2 separate regions of the Homo sapiens genome follow, and region 1 is linked to region 2. Evidence: fine-mapped expression QTL. A gene starts in region 2. The other region holds a variant in brackets. All regions are shown on one strand. Distances are between the middles of the regions. Region 1 has its middle 100 kb from the start of LRATD1. Region 2 holds the start of LRATD1 (LRAT domain containing 1).

What was found.
Region 1: its variant is fine-mapped to the expression of LRATD1 in left ventricle (GTEx, PIP above 0.99).

Annotation. Positions count from the first base shown.
Region 1 is chr2:14,531,004-14,535,393 of GRCh38, reverse strand. No RefSeq gene overlaps it. Among named protein-coding and RNA genes, the nearest start is that of LRATD1, 100 kb to the left of the region's middle. The variant C/T (reference allele first, on the strand shown) is at 1,935.
Region 2 is chr2:14,630,960-14,635,349 of GRCh38, reverse strand. LRATD1 (LRAT domain containing 1) reads right to left here and starts at 2,633. Exons shown (of 2, transcript NM_145175.4): 1 at 2,413-2,633; 2 at 1-1,406. The coding sequence starts at 1,370. The coding sequence ends at 492.

The DNA of each region.
Region 1 (4,390 bases), 100 kb after region 2:
GATTTCTGGCTTAAGGTTGCTTCACAGGATCCTCAATGTAGGGTCAGGGCCCAGCCTGTTGGAGGATTCTGCGAGCACCGGAGGGGCAGCCTGCCAAGCAAGGCAAGGCAATGCACTAATGAGCACTCACGTGTCCAGGCCTGTTTGGGGTGTGAAGAATTAATGGAGGAGTGATTCTCCTGCCCTGGGACTGCTCCCAGGGACTCCTGCTCCCTGGGACTGCTGCTGCTGCCTATTCTGTCTACACGAGGACCCTACGCTGATTTTAACCCCACAGAAACCAGGTCATTGCTCTAACTACAGATTCTGTCAAATATTTTATGACAAAATAGGACTGAATGTGTAGAATAATGGTTTTAAATTTAAAAATATATATTTTGCAACATCTCTTACTAGATATTGATGATGTGACCTCACTCACTAACCCCCATTTTTATTGAGTCAGGAAGGGTAATGTCCTAGGGAAGGAAGGGGTAGACAGCTGAGAACCCAGGTCACTGGAGGAGAAGCAAGATATGGTGGAGTAGAAGTCCCTACTAGACAGAAAACAGAAATAAAAACCCCTTTATTTTAAGGAAAAAGAGAAAGGAAGATTAAGACAAAAGGTGAAATTCTGGAGTCCTGTCTCCTTCGTGGGGCAATGAATACAAAAATTACTAACCTCAGGCAGCTACAAGAGAAAGGTGAAAACAAAGGGGCTTTCGCCCCACTTTACCATATGGGACTCTGAGTGGTGGATCCCTCCCAGGCTGTCCCTTAGCAAAACACAAATGCTAGAAAAGTGGTCAGCCAGGGAGAGGACAGTGATAGTGCCCCTGCCTCTCTGCTCCGGGGTGACATGAGGCTGCTGCAGGAGTTCTTGCTCCATCCCACTGGGGAGCAGAGGATGCTGAGTTGAGAGCCAGAGGTCTGGCCTGAGTGGAGAGGGGCAAGGCTGCTGTGTTCACCTTCTCTGCTGGGACCTAAATGAGGATGTGGCAGGGGCTCAGTGGGTCCATAGCACCAGTGAAAGCAGGGAAGAGCTGGTCAGCGGTTTAATAATATTGGGGAGTCAGGTGGTGAGGCTGTCCAGCCATAGAACAAGCAGTAGAAGCCAGTAGACCATTCAGGGGCCAGGAGGAGTTAGGACGGCGCCATGGGCTATGGGAGCCATCAGGACTTGAACAGCCCAAGACCACATGAGGGTCAGACACTCAACCGCTTTGTGTCCCTCTTGAACCGAACACCTTGGAATTCAGGGGAGAGAATTAACTTTGAATTGATTGACTGTCCTAAAGATCCTTTCTTAAATGTGAAAGTTGAAGACAGCTTTAATTAACAAATATTATTTCCTATCATCTTATGCCACCTTGAAAAGTGAGAAGTTCAGATAAGCTACAGTAAATTTACTATGGTAAATTCAAAGTGTATAATTGTTTGTTTGTTTTTAATATCACTGAGCTGTAGCGTGTAAAGCAAATCATGAGAGTCCAAACAGGCAGGTTATACATGTATGCTTCGTAAAACATCTCACATTTTCACTTGTATTTCTGAGTTGATGGCTTTAGCAAAAGACTCCTCAAGAAGAAAGCGAACTTTCTTTTTTTGTTGTTCCAGTTAAGGAACAAATATCAAGTCACAGAAGGGATTATCACAGCAGTGGCAACAAAGTCTAGAGAGTTGAGGGCCACAGAGTGCTTGCCACAGTCCTGGCCTCCTTGGAGTTCCAGGTAGCCCGACACATCTGCATGACTTACTTTTGGGCTGGTGAATGATACAGGGAGGGAGACAGGAACCAACCTTTAGAGAGAACCTATTATGGGCTTACAACTTTGCATGCATGGCCAAATTTAACCATGCCAGCACCCAGAGGGTAAGTTATCCTCATCTTATGAAAGAAGAACCTGGAGCTAAGGAGATTCAATGCCTTGCCCAAGTTGCAAAACTCCTAAATA[C/T]AGACCTTGGATTGGAATCCAAGTCTTTGTGATTTTTGTTCTCTGCTCTTATCCCTAAGCCACAGTGGAAACTTTGGCACATCTGACTGCACTGTTTCTGTTTTTATTTTTAAATCCAGCCAAAGCCTCTTCTCATTGTTGTATCAGTTGTCTCTGGGTAACCAGGATGTTTGATAGGAGGAGTAAAGGAAGTAGGCCTACTAGCAGAGGGAAGGCAAATTTGACAGTGTCCCTGTGATGTGATTATATAAGGCTGATTCACAATCTTGCACCAATAATTTAAAGGCATACATTTTATTGTAATTTAATCCATTTCAATTTCATTAAATTCACTTTCATTCAATTCAGTTCAGTTCAGTTAACAAGGCTTCCCTGTAGGAGGCTTTAGTTTAGCCTCTAGGAACATGGAGATTAATTAGATTGTTCCTGTCCTGTCCTCAGGAAGCTCACAATCAGATGCAAGGACAACAGTCAGGTTTTAGCTTAAATACCTAATTATATAATCTTCATAAACAATTTTTTATGGAAAGAATATATTTCAAAATTCTGCATTAATTTATTAACAACTAACTACCAAATAGTTTTCCTGGCATATGAATATTTAAAAAGTGCCTTGTTCACTATTTATTTCCACAGCGGCATATAATTACTAATTTTGAAGATGATTCAATGATGTAAAAGAGTATTTACTCATATTTCTATTCGGAAGCAATCAGTGTATCTAAGAAAATATGTTGTTTGTTTTCAAAATCTTTACATAAAAACAACTTCCAACATGACTTGTTAAATGTAATTGTGTTGTTTATCTGAATGAGAAAATTACAAAATGAATATATTGTAACACATTTTAGTAAGAAAAAGAATGGTCAAATACTGAAAACTAGTTCCTCCTTGTGAGCGTTATTTAAAGCTATTGATTTGGGATTATTTAAAATACCATTTACAAACATTTTACAAATAATTCTCTGCAGTTATAAAAATACAACTTTTAGATAAAACTCACTTGTAATCCATGATGGTGCAATTTTGTTTTTTTTTTTTAATTTAGCTGGATTATGTTTTGAAGTTTAATATAATTAAGTCTTATTTTAAGATCAAACTAAGTTGAATTGAGGCTTATTTAATAGACATTTGAATTCATGGTAAAGTCACCAGAAAAGTCAAGATTTAAAAACCATTGACATGCTAAATACAAAATTCAGTTATAATATCCAACCTTTTTCTTTTTTTTTTTTTTTCTTGAGATGGAGTCTCTCTCTGTCGTCCATGCTGTAGTGCAGTGGCACCATCTCGGCTCACTGCAATCTCAGGCCATTCTCCTGCCTCACCCTCCTGAGTAGCTGGGACTACACGTGTGTGCCACCACACCTGGCAAATTTTTGTACTTTTAGTAGACATAGGGCCTCACCATGTTGGCCAGGCTGGTCTCGAACTCCTAACCTCAGGTGATCTGCCTGCCTTGGCCTTCCAAAATGCGGAGATTACAGGTGTGAGTCACCATGCCTGGCCAATAATATCCAAACTTGATGAGATTACTTGGGTTAGTTTATAAGTGGTATTTGTAACAAGTTAATACGATAGAACTTTTAAAGATGACAGCACTGCTCACACCGGCCTTTTCAGCAAAGGAATATCTTAATATACTTCTTGCCACCACGCTTAACTTGAACAGTTTTAAGTTGCCTAACATTGGGGAACACTGTGCTTCCCAGCATCTCACCTAATGTTGCCTTATCACTATCACAAGAATAGAAACAACTGATATTATCATTATTTTTTGAGACACACTTTTCCATAATAACATCCATTGCAATTTTAATGAAACCCAAATGGAAATTCAATTGATTAAAAACCCATCCTTTTTTTCATTTCCTCATTTTCAATGTAATTGAAACATTAACTTGAGTTGAGAATAGAAAAAAATTAAAAACTCAAAAAAAATATTAAGTGCAATGTGTTGGTATCATCCTGCATGTCATGTATTTGCCATCTTTGGTCCATGGGGAGCTGATTCTGGCAGTCCGCAGTACCACTGGAGACCTAACCCAGAACCATAGGAATCAAGCTCCCATGCTGATCGGGAACAAACTCCATTGTGTGTACATTTTTCAAAAATAAATGTTTTCATGGACCCTCCAATATGGAATTAGAGTATCTTTATCCTCATATTACTTAAATATGCATAAATATAAAATTGGATATAAACTCTTTGTGCTTTTATTTTTTACTTTTATTTTGAGACAGACTCTCACTCTGTAGCCCAGGCTGGAGTGCAGCAAGCATGATCTCGGCTCACTGCAACCTCCACCTCAGGGGCTCAAGCTAGTCTCCTGCCTCAGCCTCCTGATTAGCTGGGATTAGAGGTGCCCACCACCATGCCCAGCTAATTTTTGTATTTTTAGTAGAGACAAGGTTTCATCATGTTGGCCAGGCTGGTCTCGAACTCCTGTCCTTAG
Region 2 (4,390 bases):
TCTGGGGACGCATCCACAGAGGAGCTGAACTGTGCCCTGTAGAGACCAGTTCTCGCCTCCGACCGGTCTGTGTGCGCACGCTCGGGGCGGTGATGGTCCCTTTTGAGAAGAGGGTTGTTTTCGAGTCGGGCCACAGTCACTGGCCATGGACTCGCGGGGAAGGCCATGTCCTTTCTCCCCTCAGCCCCTTCCCCGTTCCCGGTTTACATCTCAAGGGGAAAGCGCACGCGGGGTCTCCCAGCACCGTCACCACCGCTGTGGCTGTCAGCCAGGCGCTCGCAGCGGCGCCCTTTCGGCCCTGGGGCAGTTCCTGAGACTTCCTGCCGCTGGCTTGGGGATGCGGGGGTGCAGCCCGGGCCCGGGCCACCGGCGGCGGACGCGCGTGGCGGGGCGGGGCAGAGGTTGAGAACCGCTGACTGCGAAGTCCGGGTGCGGGGAAGGGAAGGGAGCGAGGTGCGGGGGAGGCAGAGGGGCCGGCAGCCCCTAGGCGGCTACTCCTTGTCGTCCACGAGGTCGGCGAGCTCCTGGAGCACTCGCAGGCGGCCGCTGGCGTCGATACGGCGCTTCTCGCGGATGAGGTCTTCCAGGCTGTGAAACCTGGCGGTGTGGACCTTGTTCTCTCCCAGGTGCACCTTGAGATAGTACTGCTGCTGCGGGGGCTGCGTGCCTGCCGGCACCTCCCCTCCCGCCTTGAACTCCCGCTTGCCAAAGCGGCACCAGGCGGCGAAGCTCTCCGAGTTCGTCCAGCAGATCTCCTCGCTCTTGAGGCCCAGGTGGCCGCAGGCGTTCTGCACCACCAGCTCGGCCACCAGCGGGCGGTAGCGGTACCAGCTATTCACCACCCGGCCCACGTTGGCCGCGCCCGCCTCATACAGGCTGTCCTGGCGGATCTCGCCTTGGTGCAGGTGGATGATCTGCCCGCCGCCCACGTAGACGGCCCAGTGCGGGGCGGGCGCGGGCGGCTCCGGCGCGGGCTGCAGCCACAGCAGCTCCAGCAGGTCGCCGGGTTCGCAGAGCGCTGGCAGCGCGGTGACCGCGTAGACGCTTAGGTCGGCGCCCTGAGGGCCACCGCTCACTTTGGAAAAGATGCATTCCTGGCCCCGAAAGGCGGAAAACTGAGTCTCGTTGAGGACCAGCTGGTGCAGCAGGTGGTGGTGGTGGCGGCTGGGGCTCTCCGGGCAGGGGGTGCAACCCGGGGGGGCCTTCACGCCAAACTTGTCGGGCTGCCCGCGTTCGTCCAGGTCTTCCTCATCATCCGAGAAGAAGTAGGCAACCCCGACCCGCAGTTCGTCCTTTTCAATCCCCGACGGGTCCCCTGTGGGCAACTCGCTGTAGTTGAGGTGGGTGATGCGGTCCAGTTGGTTGCCCATCAATGAGGTGGCGAGGCGAGGGCCAGGAGCGGGGATCTGCGGAGGCACAGAGAGGCAGAGACACCGTCAGAGTCCGGGCTGCCCCTTTCGGTGTCCCTCCCCAAGACGTGCAGTGCCCCTGGGACCTGCCGGCTAGCTTACGTGCCCTCACCGGAGTCACCCTTTCCAGCCGAGTCCTCCGTGCCTCCCCAGGGGTACGAGGGGCGGAGAAGCCGCCACAGGTCAGGCGAGAGCAGACGCCACCACACAGCCTCCGACCCCTTCCGGGAACTCGGTCCAACTCCCAGAAGAAAACACCCAGGCTGGCTGGAGAGCTTGCGGGGTCCCGGTGGGGAGGAGAGTGCTGGCTGTGGCAGTGTGGGAGACGGACACCCAGGAAGGACCGAGGGGTGGGCTGAAAGGGAGAAGGGAGCCTAAGGCCAGTGAGCTGGGAGCAAGCTCCCATTTCTGTCCCCACCCTCTCCAGCCCACCTCCCAGTTTTGCACTAGGTTGCCTTCCTCCCCTTACAGCGGCTCGCACAATGACAATCAGACACATTCTCAGGCATTCACTTGACACCAGCAACATTTTGGACACTTGGGAGTCCAGACACTGGCAGCCTGGTATACTGGTGTATGTCACATACACCCACAATGACAAACCTTCGCGACGACACACTGGCACACTTAGACCCCACACATTCGTACACAATTTCAGCTCCACGCTTGCACGCTCGCCGTTGCACGTACGCCCAAGCACCCGGGCACACCTGCCCTCACAGGCAGGTGCACTCTGCCCCTTACTTCTCTTGCCTTGTCCCCATCAGGGCCAATGGGACTGCGCCAGGGCGAGGCTGCTCTGTCTAAAATAACCTAACAAAGAGGCAGGGGAAGGATGGAGAAAGCCAGTGCAGTGTATGTGTGTGGGTGTGGGTGGGAGCGTGTGTGTGTAGAGAGGTTCACTTTTAGCCCAAAGACCCCTCTCCCTCCTACCCAGCACAGGATCCAAACAATCGGATGAAGAAAAACCGTTTCCAAGGCAAAGAAAGCCGCTTCTCCCTACCCGTGATTTCCCTGCTCCCGAAACCCCAAACTCCTTTAAAGTCTCCTGGTCCCCATGGGTGCTGAGGAAGCGGCGGTGGCGAGTGGGTCCTGGGCTGCGCGTGGGGCTGCGGCTCCGCTCTACCCCGAGCCGAATCGTGCGGTGCGGCGCCCGTGCGCCTCCAGGTCTGCGCTGGCCGGGGCGCCTGCTCCCACTGGACAGTCCCGGCTCGGCTCTGCTTTCCCACCGCCGCGCCGACGACTCTAAGTAGCCGGAGCAGCCGGTCCCAGGGCCCGCCCCAGGACGCGCTCATTGGTTGGGGCGGGTGCTCGAGCTGTGTCAATCTTCGCCGGCGGGGGAGGGGAGCAGAGGCGGGCCTCCTGTGCGCTTTGCTCTGCTCCGCTCCGCCCCGCCCCGTACCCCGCACACCCGACCGCGCGCCGCCCCGGGGAGCGGAGGTGTGCGCACCCGCGGGGGGCGCGGCGCTTTCTGCCAGGTGCCGATGCCCGCTTGCGCCCGCGCCCCCCAGCTCATCCGAGCTGATTGTGACTGAGAACACAGCCCGCCCGCGTTCCGTGTTCCAGGAAGACAGACTCCAGCGGGGAAGCTGAGTCTGGGTATGGAGAAGAAACCCCAGGGCACCCCAGTATGGCCCAGGCACTGCGAGCGGCCCGGGGCAGGCAGCGACATTGCCCGAGGCGGGCGTCTGGGCCCTGCTGGGATCCCCCAGAGCCTTGGTTCCCGATGGCCCCTAGGCTGGTCCTTGGATCGAAGACCCTTTTCGTTCCCCAGACGTCTTTGAAATTGCTCCTGCGACGTTTGGCTCCTCTTCTTTGACTGGAGTGAGGCTGCTGACCCAGAGCTGATGCCCGATTTAAAAGGAGCTTGGTGTCAAATGCCACCCAAAAGCCTGAGCTTTGGCCGGTGCATTCCCTGGCTGTGCCTATGATATTGGCCTCCAATTTTCTGAATATAGGAGGAGTACCTCACAACTCATGTATGTGAGTTCATACATGCAAGCAGAGAGTAGGATGTAAAAGTGTTTTCCAAGCCTCAGAATTGGGATTGCTAAGCAAGTTTTGTTTGGTTTTGTGGGAAAGGAGGCTCCAGCAGTAGTTAATGATTACATTTCTGGATGGAAAGTTAATGAATGAATGTGTTCTGAATATTGGATGCTGAAAAAATGAACTTCATATATACAACATTCCAGACCAATAGTTTCAAAAGTTCCTAACATTAAGCCTCAAAGAGTTCTTAGACATCTGGTTCTGGCCCCAATGCTACTCATCTTTAAGCCTGGGCTCCAGCAGCTTTTCTATGAAGCCTCTTTTCTTTCCCAATGAGGAATTTGATACTTCCTATTTGAACCCCCCACCTCTTCCCTACAAAGCGAATTCCTTGAGAATAGACTTTGCATTCTGCACAACCTTGTATTCTGGGCCTCTTTCCCAATGCTAGTCATGCAGTGTGTTCCATCAGTAATAGTAAAAATGAAAACAGCCTGTATTGACCACTTATACGTGGTCAGACACTTAAGAGTAAATTAAGTAGACAATTTAATCATTATTCCTCTGTAGGGTACTCACTAATATCCGAATTGTAACAAACAGGGAAACAAAAGCTCCAATACTAGTACCAGCAATCCATCCAAGCCTACGGGATACCAGATCCAGTCTTTCACTAAGTTATAGTGTTTATTGAATAAAATCTTGTTTCATAAAATGAGAAAACTGGTGTTTCAGAGAAGTTAGATGATTGGCTCAAGGTTACATGGAGACTGATCCATATTACAACCCCCTTTTTCTTTGCTAGACTTTTCTGCTTGAATATCTTCAAACCGCCAAGCCTCCAGTTTATGTTTGCTTTCTGAAGGTCTCTGTACACCCCCACAGCCTCCAAATGCAGTGATTTATCAAATTAGATGCTAAAATATTGCTGGAAAAAATGGTTTTAAATGACCATCGGTATACAATTGATGTACCTAAATCTTTTTGGAAAT